4 linked regions of the Homo sapiens genome follow. The protein of the gene in region 2 purifies or fractionates together with the protein of the main gene of each other region. This does not show direct contact. Each region holds a gene or a part of one and is shown on either strand. Other genes may lie near its edges.

Region 1 (7,044 bases), on a different chromosome or scaffold from region 2:
TAAATGACGTAATACAAGTAAAGAATGCCTTGATGAGAAAGAGAAAGCTCTGAGGGATTCCCATTGGGATAAACAGAACTCATCTTTCCAGTGTGGAACCGAAAACCTTTGTGTTACATTTTTTTCTAATTGTAATATTTGTTAGTGTGATTTAGTGATTATCAAAGTAAGCCACACTTGCCTCATTTTCTCCAAATTCTCATTTTCATGTCATGTAGGACTTAGGATCATGTCACATTTGATGAAACCACATAGGTTTGGGTTTGCAAGGTTAATGCATTTGCATAGTTTTTTTTTCTTCTAAGATCCTATTGCAATTCTAGCAGCTATCAGGAAGTTGGCTAGAGATGCCTGAGATTTGGGGGAAGGTTTTAACGAAGTCTTTATAGTAGGTATTTCACTAAGGTATACTTTTTATATCAGAGTACTGTGTAATAAAGTAGAACGTTAATAACCAGCCTCTAATATTTATATACTTGAAAGAATGACATCTGAGAGAAGTTTTTTAAAGAATTATGAGCATATGTAGACACCATTTTACTCATCTCAGCCAATTTTAGAAAGGTTTCAGATAATGTCAGTTTCCTTACAGAGCTGGCTCGTGCTAGTCCCTGTTTGCATGAGTCAAACACCGGCTTTTCCATGGATAAGCCCCACTTTCTCCTTCAGGCAGCTGGTTGGTGTCAGGAAAGAGCGGGGTCTCCCACACGAGTCCTTTGTGATGATTTTGTTCCCATCGGGGTAGTGGTTTTCTCCCCACTCAGCTCTTTGCTCCTAGACCCCGGCTTTCTGAAGCCCCTCAGAGCCGCTGGCCTCCTCCGTGCTTAGGGCTCCGCGGCATTGTTGCAGCAGGACCTCTGTCACAGACTTGCTGTGTATACTGTTTTCTTCAGGATTAACTTGGAAACTGAACATTCTATTGATTATAAACATAGCTATTTCATAAATTTGCCCCAGTTAATAAAGTCAGGTTTTACATTTTATAAAAGCAGTAAGCTACCTATTATTAATAAAGAAAATGCTGTTGTTTCATTTAGGGGAAACTAGAATTACAGGGAACCAAAAGTAATAACTTCCTTTTTTATGATTTTTTTTTTCTTTGAGATGGAGTCCTGCTATGTCACCCAGGCTGGAGTGCAGTGGCGTGGCCATGGCTCACTGCAACCTCCCGCCTCCTGGGTGCAAGCGATCCTCCTGCCTCAGCCTCCCAAGTAGCTGGGACTACAGGCATGTGCCACCACTCCCAGCTAATTTTTGTAGTTTTAATAGAGATGGAATTTCACCATGTTGGCCAGGCTGGTCTCGAACTCCTGACTTTAGGTGATCCACCCACCTCAGCCTCCCAAAGTTCTGGGATTACATGCGTGAGCCACCGCGCCGGGCCTTGTGAATTTAATAGACTGGAAAATTAGTGGGTGGGCATTCTTCATATCTGTATCTAATATAACGGATAAACAAGTTTGCCAGGCCTACTTCATTTAGAACGTTGTTAGTGACCAACACGCTTATGAGAACAGATGTCTTTGTCCCCTCCCAGCAGCTTGTGTTCATGTTCATATTTTCTAAGATTAGAAAACAAAAACTAACAGTTTTGTTGTTGCTCATGACAGCATAGGTAGTTTTGGAAATAGGAGGGTTAGTTCTTCGGTTGGTCCCAGAAAATGCCTAAGACATTTGGGAAAATATGAAGTGGCTGATGTTGTTCAAATTCAGCTTGTTTATTGTATTATTATATGGGATGATAACCTTTTTTTTGGTCAGCCTTTCTGGTCTCTAGAGACTTATTTAAAACTAAATATAAGCATACTTGGCAATCACTAGTAATTCAGAATATTTCACATTCTGTCTTTATACCCATAATTGTTTTAATTTTTACTCAGGCAAACATAAATGGCCGTGTGTTAGCTCAGTGTAACATTGATGAGCTGAAGAAAGAGATGAATATGAATTTTGGAGACTGGCACCTTTTCAGAAGCACAGTAAGATATTTGTAACATTGTGATGTTTACAACATTATTTTATGATAACATTCAAAATTATTTATAACATTGTAGAAAACCAGTATCAATAAGTACTGGCCTAAACTGGTATTTTTTTCATATTTTTTTAAATTTAAAAACTGCTTCTTACACTTATGTGCAATCCTGTGTTGTGGAAAATACACACAGCAGCACTTGGCAGCCTTTGCCTTTTTGGGCATTTCACTCAGAGATTTGGGGAAGAGGCCGCCTGCCGGTTCTTCATGCTTTCACCTGCCTTAACTCTCATCAGGCTCCTCAAAGCCTTCGAGGCCTTGACCTTCAGCATTCATCCTTATAGGGCTTGCATTGCCCAGGTTTAGCAAGAATCCTGTTAAGTCAGTTTACATGTGTGATCACCCTCAGTATTTGATCAAACGCCTCACTAACCCCCCCACCCCCAGGTGATGTCGGCTCACCCTGGCCATCGGCGTACCAAGAGTCCCCCACTCCTGCTGCCTCCCCTTAGTAATGTTCCATCCACGACCCCCACCCTGCCCCTTGGTGGTAGATCCCCACTCATTCGTGCTTATTCCGAGTTGGACTCCCTTCTGTAGTGAGACTGCTTACCCCTGTTGCCATAGTTCTGAATAAAATCTGGACCTACCGCCCTACTCCTGGCCAGCTCTGGTTTTGACACAAGCCAGCTGCATTTTTCTTTGTCCTCAAGTTAAGTTTTAAACAGAAGTAATAATTTAATGGACAAATTGCAGTGTAGTATATGTATGGTGGTTTCTACCATTGCTTCCTTTAGTATTAATGAACATGAAAGATAAGCTGATGTATAAAACAAATTCACTAGAAATTCACTTACCAGAAGTATGCTTTCTCATTGCTGTTGCAATAGCTTTATAATGTTTGGTATTTCTAAATATTTCTAAAGCTTCTAAAATATGATTTGTTAGTGTAAATATTTATGTTTTTCTTCTGTTAAGGTACTAGAAATGAGAAACGCAGAAAGCCACGTGGTCCCTGAAGACCCACGTTTCCTCAGTGAGAGCAGCAGTGGCCCAGCCCCGCACGGTGAGCCTGCTCGCCGCGCTTCCCACAACGAGCTGCCTCACACCGAGCTCTCCAGCCAGACGCCCTACACACTCAACTTCAGCTTCGAAGAGCTGAACACGCTTGGCCTGGATGAAGGTGCCCCTCGTCACAGTAATCTAAGTTGGCAGGTATTTATTGAATGGCATTTTTCATATTATTGAAGAATAAGCACACCGTTCAGTTCACTGAGATTATATGGGCATTTAGACAGTCATTCAGAAAATGCTTACTGAATACCTAAGTGAACAGGAGACAAGATGGAGGGCTCCCTGTACTCAAGGAGCTGCATCCATGTGGAGAGGGGCAGTCAGTGAAACAAACAAAAAAGTAGCTCATGTAGACATTGATGAGAGCTGAGATATCCATCAGGGTCACAGCATGCAGAGTCAATAGGGATTAGGCCACTTGAGCTAGGGTGGTCAGCAAATTCAGCCTTTCTCAGGCGATCTTCCTGTTGCATTCAGTAACTGTTGGTTGAAGTACATCTTCATTGGAACACTGGCCACATAGTGTCCCTTTGAGCACCATCCTTTGGTTTTCCAGGACGCCTGCACACCCTTCACGGATATTGGTTTCTTCTGGTCTGGCATTAGATGTAGGCGCGTTCTTCCTTTGGAGATTCTTAGAAGAAGGAGGCCAGGTGAGGGGTAGGGGTAGGGGCAGGGACAGAGCAAAGTGAGAGATGCAGGAGGAGTAGCGGGAGTGAGGAGAGCGCAGGAGGAAAAGCAGAGCAGGGTGTGGAGAACAACGGGGGAGGAGGCACAGCGGGCGGCAGCGAGTAACACTGAGTGGGCAGGGCAGGGCAGCGGTGAGGAGGAGCAGCGCCTTGGGGAAGGAAGAAAATGTCCTATTTCCTTGAGAAGGTCCCCAACAAATTCACTTTGCTCCTTCTTTTTTGTTTTAGCCTTTGCTCTTGACCCTTCTTAAACTTTCTTGATTCTTCTCCTTCTTTTTCCTCATCTGTACTTTTTGCTCCTTGTTTCTTAGCTATTCTGGGATCTGAAGCAAATTCTAATTCTAAAACTTAATATTGGAAATAAACTTGTAAAACTACTTTATTTTTCTGTTTACTAAGGCCCAACTATTGGCCTCATTGCATTTTATATTTTATCAATGAAGTTGACTTTGGCCTTAAATAAAAGCTAAACGTTTGAAGTTATAAAAACAAGTGCTGTGGCCGAGCATGTGGGACATGCCCATAGTCCCAGCTGCTCAGGAGGCTGAGGCGGGAGGATTGCTTGAGTCCAGTAGTTTGAATCTAGCCTGGGCAACACAGCAAGATCCTGTCTCTTAAAAATGAAATAAAAACCAGAAACAAGTGCTAAGATTATTTGTTAATACAGTGTTTAATCATACTTTTAAATATTAACAATAAACTGATTTTATTAAAATTTATAGAAAGCTTTCTAGTAACAGCATTATAAGGTCACAGCTTTTGTTAATCTGTGTTATGTAGAATTCTTTTAAAAGAATTTGATGTTTTGATGACTTTTTAAATGGTTAGTGTACATATATATTTCCTAAGCTGATGTTTATGCCTTTTTTCTTCTTATTTGAATTTTTAAATTATTTTTTTTCTGTCTTCACAGTCACAAACTCGCAGAACCCCAAGTCTTTCGAGTCTCAATTCCCAGGATTCCAGTATTGAAATTTCAAAGCTTACTGATAAGGTGCAGGCCGAGTATAGAGATGCCTATAGAGAATACATTGCTCAGATGTCCCAGTTAGAAGGGGGCCCCGGGTCTACAACCATTAGTGGCAGATCTTCTCCACATAGCACATATTACATGGGTCAGAGTTCATCAGGGGGCTCTATTCATTCAAACCTAGAGCAAGAAAAGGGGAAGGATAGTGAACCAAAGCCCGATGATGGGAGGAAGTCCTTTCTAATGAAGAGGGGAGATGTTATCGATTATTCATCATCAGGGGTTTCCACCAACGATGCTTCCCCCCTGGATCCTATCACTGAAGAAGATGAAAAATCAGATCAGTCAGGCAGTAAGCTTCTCCCAGGCAAGAAATCTTCCGAAAGGTCAAGCCTCTTCCAGACAGATTTGAAGCTTAAGGGAAGTGGGCTGCGCTATCAAAAACTCCCAAGTGACGAGGATGAATCTGGCACAGAAGAATCAGATAACACTCCACTGCTCAAAGATGACAAAGACAGAAAAGCCGAAGGGAAAGTAGAGAGAGTGCCGAAGTCTCCAGAACACAGTGCTGAGCCGATCAGAACCTTCATTAAAGCCAAAGAGTATTTATCGGATGCGCTCCTTGACAAAAAGGATTCATCGGATTCAGGAGTGAGATCCAGTGAAAGTTCTCCCAATCACTCTCTGCACAATGAAGTGGCGGATGACTCCCAGCTTGAAAAGGCAAATCTCATAGAGCTGGAAGATGACAGTCACAGCGGAAAGCGGGGAATCCCACATAGCCTGAGTGGCCTGCAAGATCCAATTATAGCTCGGATGTCCATTTGTTCAGAAGACAAGAAAAGCCCTTCCGAATGCAGCTTGATAGCCAGCAGCCCTGAAGAAAACTGGCCTGCATGCCAGAAAGCCTACAACCTGAACCGAACTCCCAGCACCGTGACTCTGAACAACAATAGTGCTCCAGCCAACAGAGCCAATCAAAATTTCGATGAGATGGAGGGAATTAGGGAGACTTCTCAAGTCATTTTGAGGCCTAGTTCCAGTCCCAACCCAACCACTATTCAGAATGAGAATCTAAAAAGCATGACACATAAGCGAAGCCAACGTTCAAGTTACACAAGGCTCTCCAAAGATCCTCCGGAGCTCCATGCAGCAGCCTCTTCTGAGAGCACAGGCTTTGGAGAAGAAAGAGAAAGCATTCTTTGAGAAAAACAAGCAAAGGAGAAGAGTGTTACTGTACCTTTATGACAGAATTGTCCTGGATTTTGACTCCATCCACGCCCATCACCTTTCTACATTTTGCTGACAGATAACTAACCGATGATGAGGCCGAGGTAAAAGAGACATCTGCAGTGTGACAGAAGGGAGCATGAGAAGCATGGCTCACCAGCCAGCCTCTGTGGTCTTTGTAATTAGAAGCTTCAGAACTCACTAATACTACTGTACCTTTCATTGGCGCATTACCCCATAAAACTTTTTGAGACGAGGTGAGATCTGAGTATAAAGATAGGTCAGAAGTATTTTAAAGGGCTTAATGTGCCAAAAAGAAAAAAAGCTAGAGACCCTTTTTGCAAACATTTGGTGACCACACATTTGAGGGAAGACGTGGCGTTAGGTGAAGCAGAAGCAAACCCTGCTCTTAGGGGCTCACCTAGGTGAGTGCACAGCCTGTGACGCTACAGGGAGAGGCTGAGTAAACCGAGATCCAGCGTTCTGTATGGCAGGGGTATTGCTTATCACAGAGGTTCTGAAGAGTAGGAAGTACATAATGAAGAGGGCTTTAAAAATTGCCAACAAAGTGAGTCACCAGGGCTGGCAGTAGTGTGACGGGGCTGTCCTGAGCTGTTAGGAGAGTAGATGCGGGGAGGGCTGGTGACCTCCGTGGGTTTATATGTCGGAAACTCTTCTCTCCAAATCCCAGGCCTGGCTTCCAGCACCATCCAGCTGTGCCCAAGAAGCCACCCTGGTCTGTTCTCCAACTCTTTTAAATGGTGCCCAACTTTTCTAAGTGAGCTTAGCAATGAGAAGAAAAAAAAACATGAATTCTTTTTCTGGAAAATCAGGGAGACATGGGTAATAATAGGTACTAATAAATATTTATAGATGAGTGAATGAGGAAATAATTACATCAAAAAGGTCAGTGACAATTGATAAATGACAAGGAAATATTTAATTAGGTAAAACTAAATCATTGCTCTCTATACTAGGATAGACTTTATCTACTTCATCTGTTCCTAAGTCAGCATGTTAGTTCTGGGGAAGGATCATAAGAAAGGAAATACTTTTTAAAAAAAAATTTGGAAACATGTAACAAAGCAAGGGTAAAATATATATAT
Region 2 (3,190 bases):
TTGCAAGGACACAAGTTGGTTCCAACAAAAGTGACAAATTCCTTAAGAAAATGTTATTCCAAGAAAATATTCTTACAAAATACACTCCCATAGAAGGGGAACAAACACTTAATGACATCTACATATCAGGAGCCTCATATACATTTACTTGATTGAATCTATAAACCTATCCTGAGGTGGACGGCATTATCTTCATTTATAGCTGGGGAAATTCAAGTTCAGGGAAGCTAGAGAATTTGCCCGAGGTTGCAAACCTGACAAACTAGAGAGCCCAAATTTGAACCCAGGCCTGTCTGCTCTCTCTCTCCATCATACTAAGTTGCTATTTTTCCACAGGGATACAACAGAGAAGACCTAACTCCATCCTTCTCTTTGACTCTCCCTTCCTTCTTGGCAATGCCATGCCATGCTGTTCCCTCCCGGTGTTTTTCAACCTCTCCTTCACACATAGAAAATTATCTACCACATCGGTCCCACACAGAAAGATCCACAGCCTGTTATGAAGTTTTTGCTATAAAACATTTAATGTTAACCTACAATACAATGTAAACTTTTATGAAAAAAATTTAAAGTACACTAGATTTCTTCAGTAAATTATCACATGACTATTCAGGCGCAGTACAAGTTGGGGCACTGCATCCTTTGTGGATGGATTTCCGTTGCTGTGTTCCTCACAAGTCCTAAAAAAACCAGTTGTAGAGCGGAGCTCCTTGTTCAAGCACCGGATAATGATGCCCCTGATTTTGCATTCTGGGGGTTATCGCTCCTTCTCAGTCATTTTCTGAAACTCTTTGCTTGGCCTTGGCACCATTAGCAATTTTCACAACTGCTCAATTGAAGGTTCTAGGTTCTTTTTAGCTTAGTTTTTAAGAGACAAGTGTTATCCTCTGGCCATCTCTTATTCAAATATCATGGTGGAGGCAAGCAAGGAGAAAGAAGTATTTGCTAGAGGAAATTCTGCAGAAGTGGAAGAAAAGACCAGAAGGGCTCCACTGAGGGTACAAATATTCAACTGACTCCAATCGAGTGTCTTTGCTTGGTCACTTCCCATGGTTATTCAGCTCAATCTACAACTTCAGTCGTGGGAGTGCAGAACAAAACTTGAAACAAGTGCTTTTAGTTGATGATTTGCCATTTGGAAACAACAGCTGAAATATCCCAGAGGTGATGTGGAAACAAGAGCAAATGCTTGCAGATCACTGGCTTCTCAGTGTCTTCTCCCTCGCAGGTCTCATCAAAATCCCAAAAGTCCTTAGGAGTAACACAGATTGTACTGGCATTAAGTGACAAAATGTGCAGCCTGTATTTGACTGAGGAGGAAAGGAAATGGCACCTAGGCAGCAGCGCTAGGGTCAGCAAGGAGACCGGCCTAGGGTCTCAGTAAAGCAGAACTGTTTCAAATGGGACTAGACCGGGGCATGTGCTTCCGGTGAATCCTCTTGAAACCTAAAGTAAATGGGAAGGCCGCCCTAACAGTTGTACTGACATAAAGGGAGACCCTTCTTAATATTCTGGCAGCTGACTTCCTTCACTGAACAACTATTATCAAAAGGCGAGAGGCATAAAGTGCACACTGTAGAATAAGAAGAGACTGAATTATGATGGAAAAAAAAAATCGTAACTTCCCCAAAGAGGTGTGGACAGTGTACCTAGCCTCACAAAGGTCCTTAATACCCTCCTGTGTGCTGCCAGGGAACAGCTGTGAATTCCAGATGGGGAGGAAGGCTCTGACTTAAGTGGAAAAATTCCTCTGCATGGTTGTCAGCAGGAAGGTTTCACGTAAGGTTATCCTTATGTGGAGAACATGGGTTATCCTGCTGTTCACGCCAGATACATTTTATTGACAGCAGTCAGATGGTGATTCCACTCATCTGGCCTTGGGACAGCAGAAAACGAAGTGGAAGAACAATAGCTGGCCAGGGACAGAATTAAATTTTCCTAGAGATGGTGTTCTAGACAGCTATGCCAAGGCCACTGGGAATTTCTCAGGCTCTCCAAGTTAATTTCTGTGGGGTGCCTTACTCTGCCATGTGGGATTTACCCCAACAACTGAGGACTGCAGTGGATAGTAACCATATAATTGCTACCAAAAACAGTGGTCCTTAGGTTTTAGTTAAGCAAGAGAGAAAGCCTTGAGACTACAACTCCAGCAAGTTAGGCTTTATGTTGATCTGAACCCCCCGCCCTCACAGCATTCTAGGAACTACAGTAACGTCAGTCGGTTGCAGTGGTACAACGAGCCTGCACCAGTCTAGCTACAGAACACTTTGGAATACTTGTCAGAGCGCACTGGCATCTGTTAATACATGGCCTGACCCATGTACCCATTACCATAAACTCAACCACAGACGAGACATCCAGAGGTTAAAAAAAACCCTATTACTTCAACATAGCAATAGAGAGAAAGGATAAAAGCTGCCTCCAGAAGGTGGCTGCATCAGAAATGAAAATGTGCCTTCCAATAGATTACACAGGCTGGGAGTTCTGTCTTGGCTCCCTTCAAGGCCTCTGGTTCTATCCTTAAAACAATAATACACTTCCACTGAGACAGGCAGGGCACTCTCCTGTGGTTCTGCTGGCTCCACCACAGGCCCTGCTAGTCCTTTGGAAAGGCACCAGGCTTGGCAATTCAGGAAAGCCCAGGGCTGGGGGGAGCAGCATGCACATGTCAGAAGAGGAATGAAGAGCTGCTATCCTTTGGTTCAGACCCCATAACCACCACCTGGTACAGACTCCAAGGAAAAGCTGCAGTTGTGTGTAAAGGTGAGTTCCACCACATACATAGGTGTATCTTTACATATACAGCCTTTGTGGGGCCACAAACCCAGATTTCCTCCCACTGCTCCAAGTGGGGTGCACAGGTGGTAAGAAAGGACAGCAAGAGTTGGACCAAAAAGAATGACCTCTCTGGGAACGTGAGAGGGACAATGGCAGAAATAAGCACAAACCAGCCCGGGGCACTTTTATTACACTATTGTGGGCTAAGGAGCCCAGGGCATAAACTCATGGGTTTAAAGAATTGGCTCTTTATCAAATAAAGGAAAAAAATATATATATATACCTATGTCAGCCTCATTCCTTTGGTCATTACAAAACAGAAATAAAAGTTATTGAAAACTTGTGGGCAGTTCAAGGAACATCTCTGCTTCTCTGCTCTGTGCTTTCTCTTCCCTCTCTTCCCCAGAGGCAG
Region 3 (7,644 bases), on a different chromosome or scaffold from region 2:
AGAAAGTTTGCTGGAAAGACTAGGTTAATCGGCAGAACAGAAAACAGTGCTTTCATATGTAGTATCATCATATAATAAATAGAACTGACATATCAGAGAAAAACTTCAGGGTCTAATATAAATTGCTGAGAAATGTTTACATTAGGCAGTCAGAAACATCTAAAAGAAAGGAAAATTCTTTTTTTTTAAACTAAAACTTAAAAAAAAAAAAAAAGAGATAGGTTCTCACTATGTTGTCCAGGCTGACTCAAACTCCTGGCCTCAGGGGATCATCCACCTCAGCCTCCCAAAGTGCTGGGATTACAGGCGTGAGCCACTGCACCCTGCCAAACACTTATTTTCTTGTTGGAAACCCTGATAGACCCTTCCCTACCCAACATCTCCACACCCACAGTAACCACTCTCAATTGTAGAGTGCTTAACGTTTTAAAATGTCTACTATCTCTTGTGATCCACAGACAAGCAAGCTACCCCCAATTCACAGATAGGAGACTAAAAGTTGACTGACTAGCTGAATACTAGTTATTCAGCTAAAAGTTGAACTTTTAAATGTCCTGACCAAGGACCCGCAGGAGTAGATGGAAACTCTGATGGCAAATCTAGAACTCCTAACTCCAAATGCACAGTGTCATCAAGAGTTTAACCCCAGGCAGAGTAAAGCCAAGTAGGAAGCAAGACTTACTTGGATGGAACTACAGCGCCATGTGAGTATTGTGCGAACACAGTGACAAGAGATGACAGGACTGCTTTACAGACCACTAAATTCTTGAGAATTGTTAACTATTAAAGTTGAAACAATTCAGTTCTACATATTAATTATCCAGATTTTAGAGTCCTCATCCTAGTGAGGAGACAAGCATACGCATAACTGCAAAGTAAAAGTGAGAGATGTTCTAAAACAAAGGAGGATGAGTACATAAAGGTTACACAAAAGCTGCGTTTTGAAAGGCAAGCTAGAGTTCAATGGATATAAAGTGAATGAAACACATTTGAGACAGACAGAACAGCATGTGTAGAGGCACAGTTATTGGCTTTTGGGTCTCTCCCCTACTCCAACTATGGTAAGATCATCCTGGAACAGAAAAATCCATCTCTCTTTTAGCATTTTATTTTGAGACAGGGTTTCGCTCTTGTCTCCCAGGCTGGAGTGCAATGGCACAATCTCGGCTCACTGCAACCTCCGCCTCCCGGGTTCAAGTGATTCTCCTGCCTCAGCCTCGCCAGTAGCTAGGATTACAGGCATGTGCCATCACGCCTGGCTAATTTTTGTATTTTTAGTAAGAGACAGGGCTTTACCATGTTGGCCAGGCTGGTCTTGAACTCCTGACCTCAGGTGATCTGCCTGCCTCAGCCTCCCAAAGTGCTGGGATTACAGGCGTGAGCCACTGTGCCCAGCCTCTTTTGGCATTTTAATCACTGGAAAGGACCATCTCCCATTGTAATCTAATAAACCACCATATAGCTTTAGATGTTTGGAATTTGGTTAGTATGATCTGATCCCTGGAAGACAGATCACAATTTAAAAGCACTAACAGAATTGAGTTTCTGGACCATGGTGATAACACCAAGGTGGTGGGTGTGCCTAGGTGCTGAATGGACAAAATAAGGCCATCCCTGTGAGACAACCCCTAAGCAGCTAGCTAGTCAGCCTCCTCTCATAGGACAACGTTAAGTCTAAACCAGTGATTTCCAAATACAGGAACTGGACACATCAAAACGATGCAGGGAACTTTAAAAATAAAACACAGATTTTAATTCCTACCCTTGCAAATTCTGATTTGGTACTTGTTGAGGAGCTTGAGAATCTCTTCAAAGTTCCCTAAGGGATTCTCAAGTCCAACCAGGCTGCAGAATCACTGCTTTATATCCTGACAAGGCAACTTATAATCAAAGGTCCCCACTGGGTTCTTTTTTAGGATAGTGTATAACAGGATTTGCTACTAAACAGTAAGAAAAAGAAGAAACTGAAGCATTAATCACTATTGTGATGAACCACTTACTTGAAAGTGTTTAAAGATTAATTCAGGATTGAAGTACAACTGAAAAGGTGTGATCAATTCCAACTGCTGAAATAGAAAAAGAGCTTCTTAAAGCAAATCAAGAAACAAAATTTCATCATTTACAACAAAGAATTAGTAGGTCTAGCAATTTCCAACTCTCGGTCACTTAGACGTGATTTCCTTTAAGCCTTTCTTCTTAGGCCAGAGGAAGAGGTTGGTAAAGAATTCTCTAGGATTGGTAGAATTCTTTGTATCCTCAATACCTAACACAAAAAAGTCTGTTTTATGTTGCAATAGTTGAGGCTGACATGAAGAAATGAGGCAGACAGGTGGTGATATTTTAGACACAGGACAAATAAAAACAGCTGCTATGAATCTACCCACCACATGGGCACCACCTGAAACAGCTGTATGAAACAACAAAACTCACTTGAAATAACGGAGACTGGAGACCCTGCCACCGTTAGGGCTGGGTACCTCCAGCTAGCCCCTTATTTAGATCCAGAGACCCTTTTTATTATAAGCCATTCCCCTCTCGACAGTTTCCAGCTTGCTTTCCCCATTCCTGTTTCTTCACTAAACGGACCTTCCTCTCACTAGTCACCATGGTACCACCTGGCCATTGGCAGAGCTCTCGGACACATTTCTTGGGTGGGAGGCTCCCGCAACCCTAACCCGCTATAGGTCCGGCGCTCATCTCTTAGAAACTGACCTGACCCCCCATGAAGCAGCACTCCCTTCTCGCGTCACTGGATAAGCATTCTTGGCGCCAACTCGAACCCCAGAGTAATCCCTGTACGCCTCCACCCATCCCCGGGACCAGCCCCTCTGGGCCTCCCCGAGGCCCAAACCCCAGTTTCCTGAAGACCCAGTCATATCCAGCCCAGATAATGAGAAGGTGGCACTGCAGCTGCTCACCACGGCGGCGGTGGTGAGGACGCAGGCAGTGGTGTAGGCGCGGCTGACCGGTGGGATCTGCAGGTACTCCAGCCGCAAGCTCTGGTACGCCATCTTCCCCACCGTCGCCTGCCCCACCCCCCACCCACCCCATTTCCCCTTCCGCCAGCAGGCCCCGGCGGCGGGGCGGGCCCAAAGGCCCCCCGCCCACTTTAGTTTTCCCGCGACTGCCCAATCAACGCCAAGCAACCGCAATCCGTAGAGACCTAAGGAACGCACATCCGCCAATCACGAGTTGCGTCGCCACCGCCCCCCCCCAGCGCCCCATCTCCCCACCCTCTCTTCTCCACCAGCCAACGTCCGGGAAAAACGAGTAAGTACAGGTTCCTTCTGCCAATCCCCGCCGGCCACAGCTAACTTTCCCGCCCGGCCCCTTTCTGTCATAATTGAGGTGTCCACAACCAGCCAATCAGGAACGCGAGAGTATCCCGCGTTTGCTTTCGCTCGCCGAGGCGCGTATCAGTCGGAATTTTGGGGAGCCAACCGCGCCGTCTGTCCCTGGCAAGCCAGCGGCGGTTTAAAGGAGGTGGCGGGAAGCCTGTGTGTGCTTCAAATCGTCACCCTCATGGTCGCTCCGGTAAGTGCTGCGGGGCAGCATTTTCTCTGAGGAGGAGCGGGGACGGGCGAGACTGGCATAAGCGTCTTCGCGAGGGAGCAAGGCGGCCTGTGGGTCGGCCTCACCCCGGCCTCCGACCTGAAGATCCCAGCATGCAGCGCGGGCGCGGGGCCCGACGGAAGCCGGGAGCCGGCCGGAAGCAGTTCCTGCGCTCTGGCTTCTGGGTCCTGTCCTGCGCGATCGCGGGGTCTTAGACAGCTCAACTCGCCGAGATGACCTGGGCACCTCTGCGTTGAATCGGCAAATACTGATCAAGCCGCATTTATTCTGCTCTCAGGAACTCTAAGTCTAGCAGAGAAGATGAGGCGGTAGAAGTTCATCAGTCAGTGCCCGAAGAGAGGTCCTAATGGGAATTCGAAGAAAGGAGTTAATCAAGGAAGTGTATTTTTTTGTTGTTGTTTGAGATGGCGCCCACCTGTAATCCCAGCTACTTGGGAGGCTGAGCTAAGAGGATCACTTGAACTTAGGAGGCAGAGGTTGTAGCGAGCCGAGATCATACCACTGTACTCCAGCCTGGGCGAAAGAGTGACACTTTGTCTCAAACAACAACAACAACAAGAAAATTAGCCAGGCATGGTGGCCTGCACCTGTTGTCCCGGCTACTTGGGAGACTGAGGTGGGAGGATTGCTTGGGCGCGGGAGGTTGAGGCTGCAGTGATCTGTGATCGTGCCACTGCATTCCAGCCTGGGCGACAGAGCGACAACATGTCTCAAAAGAAAAAAAGAAAAACAGAAAGAAATCCTACCTTACATATACAGCCAAACAGTTATAACCACTCCATATTTAACCATTACAAACGTAAATTTTTATTTTATTTTATTTTTTGAGACAGAGTCTCGCTCTGTTGCCCAGGCTGGGGTGCAGTGGCACAATCTCGGCTCACCGCAACCTTCGCCTCTCGGGTTCCAGTGATTCTCCTGCCTCAGCCTCCCGAGTAGCTGGGATTGCAAGTATCCACCATCACGCCTGGGTAATTTTTGTATTTCTAGGAGAGATAGGGTTTCGCCATGTTGGCCAGGCTGGTCTCGAACTCCTGACCTCAGGTGATTCGTCCATCCGGCCTCCTAAAGTGCTGAGATTACAGGCATGAGCTATCGTGCTCAGCCTACAAACATAAATTCTTAAGATTGGCTGCATCTTATCTTCCCATAAGATTTGACTGTACTGCTTATTGCAAATTATTTCATAAAGTGCGTCCTAAATTCACCTGATAATTGAAGTAGCAGTTTGTTTTAGCTAATTGCCTTTATCTGAAGGAATAATAAAATTTCTCTTATTTCTATGACAAGCAATATCATTTCATCTCAGAAAAAGATGCCTAGGTTGAATTCCCACAATGACAAGGAGATAGGGGTTTTATTTTCCTAGATGTTTATATTTGAGAGGAATTACTCGCAGACCCTTGAAAAAACATGTCAGGGTTATAAAGCTGACAAGGGACTTACTCATCTTCTAATTGGGTTTTTTTCAGATGGCTTGGCTGGAGGACAAGCAAATTGAGGACATTGGCAACGGAGTGATCAAAATGATAGATCATGAGGCCTAAAATGAATAAGGAAAGAAGAGAAGTGGCAGAGGCTGAGAACAGAAAGAGAGGGTGGAGGGGCTGTAAATCTTGAAGATTAGGGTATAATATGAGTATATGGGTAAGAATTGGAAGAATTGTGTAGGAGGCAGTAGTCAAAAAGTAGAAGCAGTTTGGAAGAGTAGTTACAAATATCAAGAGCCAGGTGGCTAAAAGGTGGAGCTATAGGTCATTGAAGCTCAAGAAACTGAGTCTCTAGGGCATTGGTTAAGTCATCTGTCTAGACTTCAAAGTTGTCTAGGATGATAATTCAGAAGACTGATCTGTGCCAAAGTCACAGGTAAGGGAAGTGAACAACGAGGAGGGGAAAAGGGAGGGTATAGGCTGATGGAAGGAGCCTCAGAGAGGCAAAGAGTTTATATCCTGTTGTGGGAGTGGCATCAGGTATAAAGGAACACAAACTCCTTATTTTTTATTGATTTGCTTCTTTGTTTGCTATCTGTAATGTGATTGGTTACTTCCTGCAGAAGATTTTTTTTTTCCAAATGAATTATTTCCTTTTTACATTTGCAGGTTTTTCACGACTGAAAACAACATAGCAAAATAAGCCAAGATGTCTGTGGATCCAATGACCTACGAGGCCCAGTTCTTTGGCTTCACGCCACAAACGTGCATGCTTCGGATCTACATTGCATTTCAAGACTACCTATTTGAAGTGATGCAGGCCGTTGAACAGGTTATTCTGAAGAAGCTGGATGGCATCCCAGACTGTGACATTAGCCCAGTGCAGATTCGCAAATGCACAGAGAAGTTTCTTTGCTTCATGAAAGGACATTTTGATAACCTTTTTAGCAAAATGGAGCAACTGTTTTTGCAGCTGATTTTACGTATTCCCTCAAACATCTTGCTTCCTGAAGATAAATGTAAGGAGACACCTTATAGTGAGGAAGATTTTCAGCATCTCCAGAAAGAAATTGAACAGTTACAGGAGAAGTACAAGACTGAATTATGTACTAAGCAGGCCCTTCTTGCAGAATTAGAAGAGCAAAAAATTGTTCAGGCCAAACTCAAACAGACGTTGACTTTCTTTGATGAGCTTCATAATGTTGGCAGAGATCATGGGACTAGTGATTTTAGGGAGAGTTTAGTATCCCTGGTTCAGAACTCCAGAAAACTACAGAACATTAGAGACAATGTGGAAAAGGAATCGAAACGACTGAAAATATCTTAATTGCTCAGTAGTCAAAAGGAGGAGCCTGTCAAAAAGTAGAATCATAAGGACTGTTCAAACCATAAGGACTGTTCAAATCATACCAGTGACTGTTCAAACCAACCATACTTTTTATTAGATTTGCTTTGTCAACTCTTTCTTGTATTCTGTGTTTTCCTCTTTTTTGGTCCACTTTGCTGAGGTATGAAGTGTACTACTTTGAACTAGGCTGAAGCATCTGAGTCTTCTAATAAGTGGGAAGGGATCCAACAAAGAAGCCATGACCAGTTAAAGATATTTGCAGAGTTACACCTTGGTCATAAGTCCTTTGTGACCTTGATTATTTTGGCTTACTCTTTGGATGAGACCAGACAAGAAAAGGATTAAACGGGTGGCTCCTTTAATATTATTATTATTGTTTTTGAGACAAGGTCCCTTTCTGTCACCCAGGTTAGAGTAGATTTCAGTGGCACAATCTTGGCTCACTGCAACCTCTGTGTCCTGGGCTCAAGTGATCCTCCTGCCTCAGCCTCCCAAGTAGCTAGGACCACAGGTGCGTGTCACCATGCTTGGCTAATTTTTTTGCAGAAACGAGGCCTCACTATATTGTCCAGGCTGAGTGGCTCTTTTATTAACCAGTCATTACACTGCGGAACAGCCAACATAGAGTACTTGCTCTCGTCCTGTGAATTTTCTTTCATGAGGGAGTCAATATGTAGTGGAAAGAAGCATGTAGCAAAAAAGACAACCTTGATCTTTAATAAAAAAGAAGTTGGTTTATTTCCAAAATAAATCCCCTGACAAAAAACCTGGTGATGTTAAGCAATTGACTGTCTTAGAGTCCAGCAGAAGACCTTAGACAAAAAAAGCAGAACCCACTGGAGTAGAAAAGGAAGCATGTAGCATATACTCAGTAGTGAAATTTAATTTTACTGACTGTTAGGTATCTATGCCAATTTGTTTTCATACTTCAGTTGGTTTTGGAATCTGCCTTATACCTAATATTTATTTATTCACACTCATAAGCATCAAATATTTAATGCCCTCAGTGGGAAATTTGTGTTTAAACTCAATGGAATCTAATATTTCTTTATGTCGTTAGTCCCTGTAAAATGTTAGGTCACCCAAGGAAAGGGGAGAAATAGCAATGGTTGTTCCTAAGGTATTGCTTGCCCTCCATGTCTTCCTAAAGAGCAGAACTTGGAGTTTCTCCTTTATGTAGAGAAGAAGTAACTTAGGGTGTATTTGCAATGAAATATTCATAGATATTGAAAGCTTGTGTTTACATGAAATATGTTTATTATCAAGAAGTCCTTTTTCCAATTCTGTACATTA
Region 4 (7,945 bases), on a different chromosome or scaffold from region 2:
GTCTACAACGGCTACTTTAGGTTGCAGCTTCACCACTTCCACTCCATACAAGGTTCTGGTCCCCAAAGCTGACCTTTGTTTTTTTTGCTTGGTTTTGCTTTTTGAGACGGAGTCTTGCTCTGTCACCCAGGCTGGAGCGCAAGCTCCGCCTCCCGGGTTCACGCCATTCTCCTGTCTCAGCCTCCCAAGCAGCTGGGACTACAGGCGCCCGCCACCACTTTTTTTATTTTTAGTAGAGACGGGGTTTCACCGTGTTAGCCAGGATGGTCTCGATCTCCTGACCTCATTGTCCGCCCGCTTCAGCCTCCCAAAGTGCTGGGATTACAGGCGAGAACCACCGCGCGCCACCCTAAAGCTGACCTTTGTATCTAGACTACTCCAGCAGCCCATTTCTAATCCCCCCACCTCCAATCTCCAAAACAAAACAGACCTTAAGCTACCTTTATTCAGCCAAACTCCTGCATGCCTAAATCAGTCTCAGGGTTCACTGCTGCCTCTGCCTTATGTAACTCCTACTAAGTCTTATTTGCCTATACTATACTGCAGGCTTCTTAGGAGGCAAGTCCTCCCCGTCCATCCCACTGCAGCCCCACATTCTAGCTTCTCAACAACTTTACCAAATGAGCAAAGATGGTCAGACATAGGTTTTAGTTTGTCTTACCCAACATCTAGGAATTTTTTCAAAAGAAGGTTTTACATTGGTAGACATCCAACTTTAAAAGGAGTACCTTCACAACTCTAAGTGAATAATAAAGTGCATTTAGGCCCCTTGCTAAGAGCAGACATGACCACGGGTGCTGGGAATGCCTATGACTGTCTTAGTCATTCTGGAGTCATTTTTATCCCTAGGTGAACTAAAAATGTGTAATAAATCAACAATTAGTGAGTCCTAAAAATCTTGGCATACCACTTGAATACTCACCTTTCTTTGGGATCTTTTATGTAAGTGTCAATAAGAAGACTATACATTTCAGAATGTATGTTTTCCATGGCAATTTGGAAGCCATAGAAACAGCGGGCTTCTGTAATCTGAACTTCTTGGCTAAATCGCTCCACCTAGTGGCAAAACACATCAAAGTTAAGCTTGAGAAAAAACCAACAGCAGCAACTGTCAACGGATACTGGCAGCATCGCACTCTTTGTACCATTATAAGGTTTATTTCTATATATATTTCATCCAATTTGTCACAATTCTTTGATATTTTATGTCATATGCTCAACTTACATATCAGGAAATAGATACATATAAAATAGGATTTGTGAGCGCTCGATTTCCTAATTAATTTATGTCAAGAAAGATCCATTCGCAATAAGAGATACAACCAAATTATTATTAAAACAGCAAAGCCACAAAAAGGAGGGAGCAGAGCCGGGCGTGGTGGCTCACGCCTGTAATCCCAACACTTTGGGAGGCCAAGGTGGGTGGATCACCTGAGGTCAGCAGTTCGAGACCAGCCTGGCCAACATGGTAAAACCCTGTCTCTACTAAAAATACAGATATTAGCTAGGCATGGTGGCGCACGTCTGTAATCCCAGGTACTCATGAGGCTGAGGTTGGGGAATCGCTTGAACCCAGGAGGCGGAGGTTGCAGTGAGCCAAGATCACACCACTGCACTCCAGCCTGGGCCAGAGTGAGACTCTGTCTCAAAAAAAAAAAAAAAAAGAGGGGGCAGATGTGGTGGCCACAAAGAGTCATCACATTGCTACCACTTAATATTGTCTCAGCTTCTCTAGAGTCGGGAAAATACCATAAGAAAGAACTGCAAAGTGTTACAAAACAGGAAATGCCATGTAATATAAAACCCAGCTTACACACACAGATGCACTCAGCATGGAAAAACATACAAGACGAGGAAAGCGAACTAGTTCGACCTCAGATCGTCAACGTCAAATGAATGAAAGATGTTTTGGAAACTCACCAAGTTTTCATTTACTATGCCATCGCTTGCTGCAAAGAAAGCCAGAACATGGGATATAAAATATCTCTCCTCGGGTTTCAGGGATTCCCAGTGCTGAATGTCCTTGGAGAGGTCCACCTGAGGTTCGGAAGTCACAATTTTAGCATAAAAGGAAGAGAGTAAAGCCTACAGGACTCACACTGAGCACTCAAACTTTAAGTATGCTGGCACCACTTACTATGCCCCACAGTTAGCCCCCCTTGCCAACGGGAACCTCCAAGTGCATTTATGTCTGAGGCGTGACGGTCACCCCTGCAGGGGTCTTCTGGGGTCCTCCGATTACCTCCTCGGCGGTCCAAAAGGAAGCCTCTGCCTTCTTATACATCTGCCAGATATCATGGTACTCGATGGGGAAGATGACAAAGCGGCGGGGGTTTTCTCTCAGCAGCGGCTCATCCTCCACGCCGGGGGCAGCTGCTTTAGTTTTCTGTTGGGGGAGAAAATAAAACATTTAAGTACCGGGCGAACCATATGAAACTAACGTTTTTCTGGACCAAGTCCTTTCCATTGGCGGCAATTTCACGGGGCCCGATGTGAAAACGTGGCTGTCCCGTCGCACTCCGTGGGTCGCAGCAGAGGAGCGCACGCCCGAACCGGGAAATGGGCCGAGGGGCGCGGGAGGCAGCCCTGGGGAGGGGCCGCCTAGGCGGGAAAGGAGCCGGGGCGGGAGTGTGAACAGCTGAGGAAACAATGCGGCTTTGGCGCCAAGACGCCCAAGGCCGTCCCTGGCCCCTCTGCCCCACGCCCGCCACTCACCGGCTCCGTGGGCTCCTGGAAGATCCTCCTCGCGGTCTTGCTGGCCAGGACGCGGGTCCCGCTCAGGGCCGGCGGCTGCGGGGAGACGCGTGTGAGTGAGGAGCGGCTTCGCTTTCCCTGCCTCCCTCCCCTGCCCGCAGCGCCCTCCCCGCGGGCTCACCGTGTTCTCCTTGTCGACCAAGCTGAGCCCCTTCAGCGGCGAGAGCTGCAGCTGCTGCGGGTCCGTGATGGGCGCGAGCGGGACACGGAGGGAGAGCATAGTGGAGGCGCAGCGAAGCAGAGCGAGCAGCCAGGACAGGACGGCTGGGACAGGGTGCACGGGCGACCCCTCACTCCAGCAGCCTTTAAATCTCCCGCGCCGCGCGCTCCCGGCCCTTCCCATTGGCTTTGGTGCCCCGGCCCTTCCCATTGGCTGTGCCATGCCTCCGACCCTTCCCATTGGCTGCGCCTTGCCCCTACCCAGGCTGGCCGCGGGGCCGCGCGCGATTTTCAAGCGCAGCGCGGGAGCCTCCGCCGGCGCCTTCCGGAGACCCCCGGGGACACCCCCGTGGACGCCCCCCGGGACCTCCCGGTTCCCCCCCCGGCCCGTCCGCTGGCTGGGTCGGGGGCGCCGCCGCCCAGGCCCCCACAGGTCCCGCGGGACCAGGGCCGCAGCCCCTGAGGGTCTCGGCGGCCTTGGCGCGCGCGGGCCCCGGTTCGCCCGGGAACCGTTTAGGATTGCGTGAGGAGCAGCGATTGGAGCCCGCGGGCGCGAGAGGATCCCCGGGCCGCGGCCCCGCCTCCCGAAAGCACCTCCTCCCAGCCGGGCCGCCGCCGGGCAGGGGGCTTAGCCAACGAGGTTGGTGCAAAGGCCTGGAAAACGCTCCTGGGTGCGGGGGAGGCGTTGCTGCGACCCTTTCGATCCGTGTCCCTGCGGTGGGGGTGCAAGGGCCCCGAGGCCTGACATTTTGGCGGGGTGGTCGGCGAGGACCCTACAGCCTAAAAGTTAGGGCCGCTGAGCCCCGTGGCTCGTTTTGCTGGGACAAGCGACCAGGCTTCTTACAGATTCGGTGTCCCCGTGAGTAAAATGGGACTCGTAACCGCGTGGACTGTTAATGCGGTGAGGAGAGCGTTCGTTGAGATGACTCATGTAAAATGTGCAGTCCTTTGTAAACCTTCAAACTACGGGACATGGCGAGAAGGCCCTTGGTGCAGTTTTCCACAGAAATCCTGTCTCCTGTCAGACCCCTGACCCCTATTGTCACCCTTGCCTTAAGAATTGCAAACTGTGGCTGGGCGCGGTGGCTCACGCCTGTAATCCCAGCACTTTGGGAGGCCAAGGCAGGAGGATTGTTTGAGGCCAGGAGCTGGAGACCATCCTGGGCAACATAGTGAGACCCCGCCTCTGCCATTAAAAAGAGAAGAAAAAAAGTTGTTTTAATTGCAAACTGAGCAAAAATTCCTGGGAGAAAGTTCACAGAATGATTTTAGGACTAGGAATTAATGTACTACTCATTGGGCGTCAAATATGCTGAAGAGGAGTTTGAAAACTCCACTGGTGTAGAGACTGGAACTTAGCAATAGCTTTCATTTAATTTTCTATGTGGCTTTCTGATTTGCCAGGCCCTGCAACGGGCAAAATGCCAAAAATAAAGGAAGAGAAAGAAACTTTAAGATCCAAGAAAGAAATCATTAACCTGAGAAAGCTTCAACAGCTGCGCTCAGGGCTGTTATTGAGAGAGACCCGGGACTTTTTTTTTCACAAAGCCTTTTCTAGATAAGATACTTTAAAGAGGGTGGGGTGGGACAGGTACCCTCCCCACCTAGGTCTGTTTCTCTCATTTCTTAAAAGTACTACGGACTTGTAAATCATAGTATTCTCGTGTTGCAGGAATAAGTGCCCATCACATTCCTTACACAAAGCCACAACTAAAACTTTGGTGTACCATGATTTGTTTAAAGCAACTCGCCATTCATCGCCATTTTCACCCCAAACACACTAAAGCATCCATCTCCAGGAAACTGGTATTTTTATTGATTACTTTATGGCTGATAAAGCTATTATCTAACAAAATTATAATTTATTGGTGTCATCTCATACTCAACTCAGATTTCAATTTCCCATAATCAGCGTCTAAAACCCTCGTTTCGGTTGCCCTAGGGCGCCACGTGCTTTTTTGCTCCTGTTAAACTCACTGTAACTGAAGTAGTCAGAGGTGGCTTCATTGATAGTTTAGTTCCTGGCCACGTAATTAACATAGCCATTGTAGAAGACGCCGAAAGATGCGTACGTGTTGTTAAAGGCCGGGTGAAGTCGCCATCCTCCCCTCCCGCGCTAAACCTGAGTCATCTCGGCGTGGCCCTCCTGCCCCCAGGTCCGGCAACTTTGCCCCGCTGCGGAGGAGGTGGCGGCGCCCAGGGCCACGCGGCAATGCGGGCGGTTCCGCCTCCGGGGAGGTCGGGCGGTGCAGCCACTCCCGGGAGAGCGCCCGCCGCAGGCTGCTGCTAGCCCCGGGATTCACTCCTTTTTCCCTCGGTGCTCGTTTTTTTGGTTTTATTTAAGTAAACAGACGAGGGTCTCGCTTGTTTGCCCAGGCTGGTCTCAAGCGATCCTCCCTCCGCCTCCCTAAGCGTCGGGATTCCTGGCGGAAGCCACTTGAGCGCGCGTTTTGACATCTGCATCTACTCCACCATTGGTCTGCACGGGAGGCCCCGCCCCGCCCCCCGGAAGGCTCCTCTGCATTCCCAGCCTCAGGTGCCCCGCCCCGTTTCCGCTGCGCGCTCGCCGGTTCACACGCCCCAGCCTGGGCAAGTTTGCAGGTCTCAGGCCAAGGTTAGCGCGACTTCCAAAAGGCTGTTCACCATTAGGGTGGAGAAACCGCGGCTCGGGGAGCTCAGCACTCACTGTGTACCAGACGCCGTGCCGAAGGTGGTCATAATAATAATTAAGGCTGCAGCACCCACAGCCTCTGGGCGCCTGGATCATGTGAGGCTGTTTGAGTTTTTTGTTTTTTGTTTTGAGACAGGGTCTTGCTCTGTTGCCCAGTCTGGTGGCTCCATGATAGCTCACTGCAGCCTCAACTATCCGAGCTCAAGCGATCCTCCCACCTCAGCCTCCCGAGTAGCTGGGACTCAAGGCAGGCACCACTACGCCAGGCTAATTTTTTAATTTTTTGTAGAGATGGGTTCTCGGTATGTTACCCGGGCTGGTCTTGAACCCCTGGGCTCAAGCCATCCACCCGCCTTGGCCTCCCAAAATGCTCAGATTACAGGCGTGAGCCACCGCCCCACCGGGGTTGGTATTTTTAACCCTTTTCATAGGTGATGAAATGAAGGCCTGGGAGGCAAGGAAACTGCCCAAGGTCGCACAGCACAACTGCACAGCAGAACGTTTTTAGCCTAGCTTTTTACTATGAATGTTTTCAACATACAGAATAATGGAAGGATTCCTAGTGTTCACCCACCAGCTAGGATTCAACAGCTGTTTCCATTTTGCCATATTTGCTTCATGGCAAATGTGGCAGACACCCCCTCTGTGGGTGTATGAGGCTTATGCTTTTTTATGGATCATTTGAAAGTGAGTGATAGATATCATAACCCATCACCCCTAAACGTTTCAGCTCCTAAAAATTAGGACACTCTGTTAATATCACCACAATACCACATTTATCCCTAGGAAAACTAACAATAATTCTCTAATATAACCTAATATCCAGTCCATATTCCTGTTTTTCCAATTGTTTCAAAAATGTCTCATAGTTTTTTGGATTTATTTTTTTGTGCAGTATCTAATTAATCACATGCATTGCGTTTATTATGTTGCTTTAGACTCTTAGTAAAGCTCCTCCACTTCTTTTCCCCACGACATTGACTTTGAAGTACAGGCCAGTTTTCTTGTAGAATGTCCCACATTCTACATTTGCCTAATTGTTTATTCACAGTGTCAATGAACTTGTTTTCCTGACCCCTGTACTCTACACTGGAAGTTAGGTCAAAAGGCTTTATTAGGCCCTGCTTGGAGGTTCACGCCTGTAATCCCAGCACTTTGGGAGGGTGAGGCAGGCAGATCACCTGAGGTCAGGAGTTTGAGAGCAGCCTGGTCAATATAGGGAAACCCCATCTCTACTAAAAATACAAAAATTAGCCAGACGTGGCAGCAGGCGCCTGTAATTCCCGCTACTTGGGTTCCCGCTACTTGGGAGGCTGAGGCAGGAGAATCATTTGAACCCAGGAGGCAGAGGTTTCAGTGAGCCGAGATCACACCATTGCACTCCAACCTGGGCAACAAGAATGAAATTCCGTCTCAAAAAAAAAAAAAAAAGTCCGGCGGGGGATCGTTATTAGCCTAAGGCTAAAAGTTATTGGCAAGAAGACTTCATACGTGATAATATAGCTAGGATTTGAACCCAGGTCTGACTAACTCCAGAATTCCAGACTCTCAAAAACTTTGTTTTAATATGAACTGCCAATTACGTATATTTATATATATATATATATAGATGAGGTCTCACGATATTGCCCAGGCTGGGCTCAAACTCCTGGGCTCAAGCTATCCTTCTACCTCGGCCTCCCAAAGTGCTGGGATGACAGGCATGAGCCCTTGCGCCCAGCCCAACATTCTTAATGTAGCACAGCACAGCAGCACCACAACCACAAGTCTCAGGAGCAGCCCAGTTCAACTTTGTAGTTAGTTTATGTGTCACTCACTCAGAAGTCAGCAGGAAATGGTTAAGCAGGAAGCAGGGTGGACAACCAGATGGAGCTGTTTGATGCTGATGTGAGTGTCACCACATCATTTGTGTCTAGAACATTCGCATTGGAGAGCTTCAGCCACTGAGAGGCCATTTTCAGGAGATGGTGAGGATGAGGCAGCCAGCACAGTGCAGAGCCTTTGGGATTAATGATTTTCTTCGTGCTCAGATAACCTCTAAAATGATGTTGAACAGTTATGTGCCACTTTACACACATTTAAAATAGACATTTAGCCAGGCACAGTGGCACACCCTTATACTCCCAGCTACTCCAGAGGCTGAGGAAGGAGAATTGCTTGAGACCAGGTATTTGAAACCAGCCTGGGCAACACAGCAAGACCCCTGTCTCTAAAACTAAAATAAATAAGAATTAAACTGACATTTAAACTTTTAGTCATAAATAGTTACAGGAGATGTAATCTCCATCATGTTGCAAATATTAGCACTTTAAAATGACAACTGGCCGGCATGGTGGCTCACACCTGTAATCCTAGCACTTT

Evidence for each region.
Region 1: the proteins of FAF2 (region 2) and KIDINS220 purify together in Homo sapiens (affinity purification with mass spectrometry; 4 studies listed by BioGRID and IntAct, with this or other methods). This does not show direct contact.
Region 3: the proteins of FAF2 (region 2) and DERL2 purify together in Homo sapiens (affinity purification with mass spectrometry; 7 studies listed by BioGRID and IntAct, with this or other methods). This does not show direct contact.
Region 4: the proteins of FAF2 (region 2) and RRM2 purify together in Homo sapiens (affinity purification with mass spectrometry; 4 studies listed by BioGRID and IntAct, with this or other methods). This does not show direct contact.

The regions. Positions count from the first base shown.
Region 1 is NC_000002.12:8,729,590-8,736,633, reverse strand, and holds part of KIDINS220 (kinase D-interacting substrate of 220 kDa), read left to right. Parts: intron 1-1,880; coding exon 1,881-1,979; intron 1,980-2,953; coding exon 2,954-3,190; intron 3,191-4,651; coding exon 4,652-5,914; 3' UTR 5,915-7,044. UniProt on the Homo sapiens protein: Promotes a prolonged MAP-kinase signaling by neurotrophins through activation of a Rap1-dependent mechanism. Provides a docking site for the CRKL-C3G complex, resulting in Rap1-dependent sustained ERK activation.
Region 2 is NC_000005.10:176,507,385-176,510,574, reverse strand, and holds the end of FAF2 (FAS-associated factor 2), read right to left. Parts: 3' UTR 501-3,190; downstream 1-500. UniProt on the Homo sapiens protein: Plays an important role in endoplasmic reticulum-associated degradation (ERAD) that mediates ubiquitin-dependent degradation of misfolded endoplasmic reticulum proteins.
Region 3 is NC_000017.11:5,483,151-5,490,794, forward strand, and holds the start of DERL2 (derlin-2), read right to left. Parts: upstream 3,012-7,644; coding exon 2,919-3,011; coding exon of another isoform or gene 2,713-2,918; intron 2,067-2,712; coding exon 2,001-2,066; intron 1-2,000. Other genes in the region: protein MIS12 homolog, read left to right, coding at 5,713-6,330.
Region 4 is NC_000002.12:10,117,828-10,125,772, reverse strand, and holds the start of RRM2 (ribonucleoside-diphosphate reductase subunit M2), read right to left. Parts: upstream 2,975-7,945; coding exon 2,876-2,974; intron 2,791-2,875; coding exon 2,716-2,790; intron 2,387-2,715; coding exon 2,243-2,386; intron 2,038-2,242; coding exon 1,921-2,037; intron 1,057-1,920; coding exon 923-1,056; intron 1-922. UniProt on the Homo sapiens protein: Provides the precursors necessary for DNA synthesis. Catalyzes the biosynthesis of deoxyribonucleotides from the corresponding ribonucleotides. Inhibits Wnt signaling.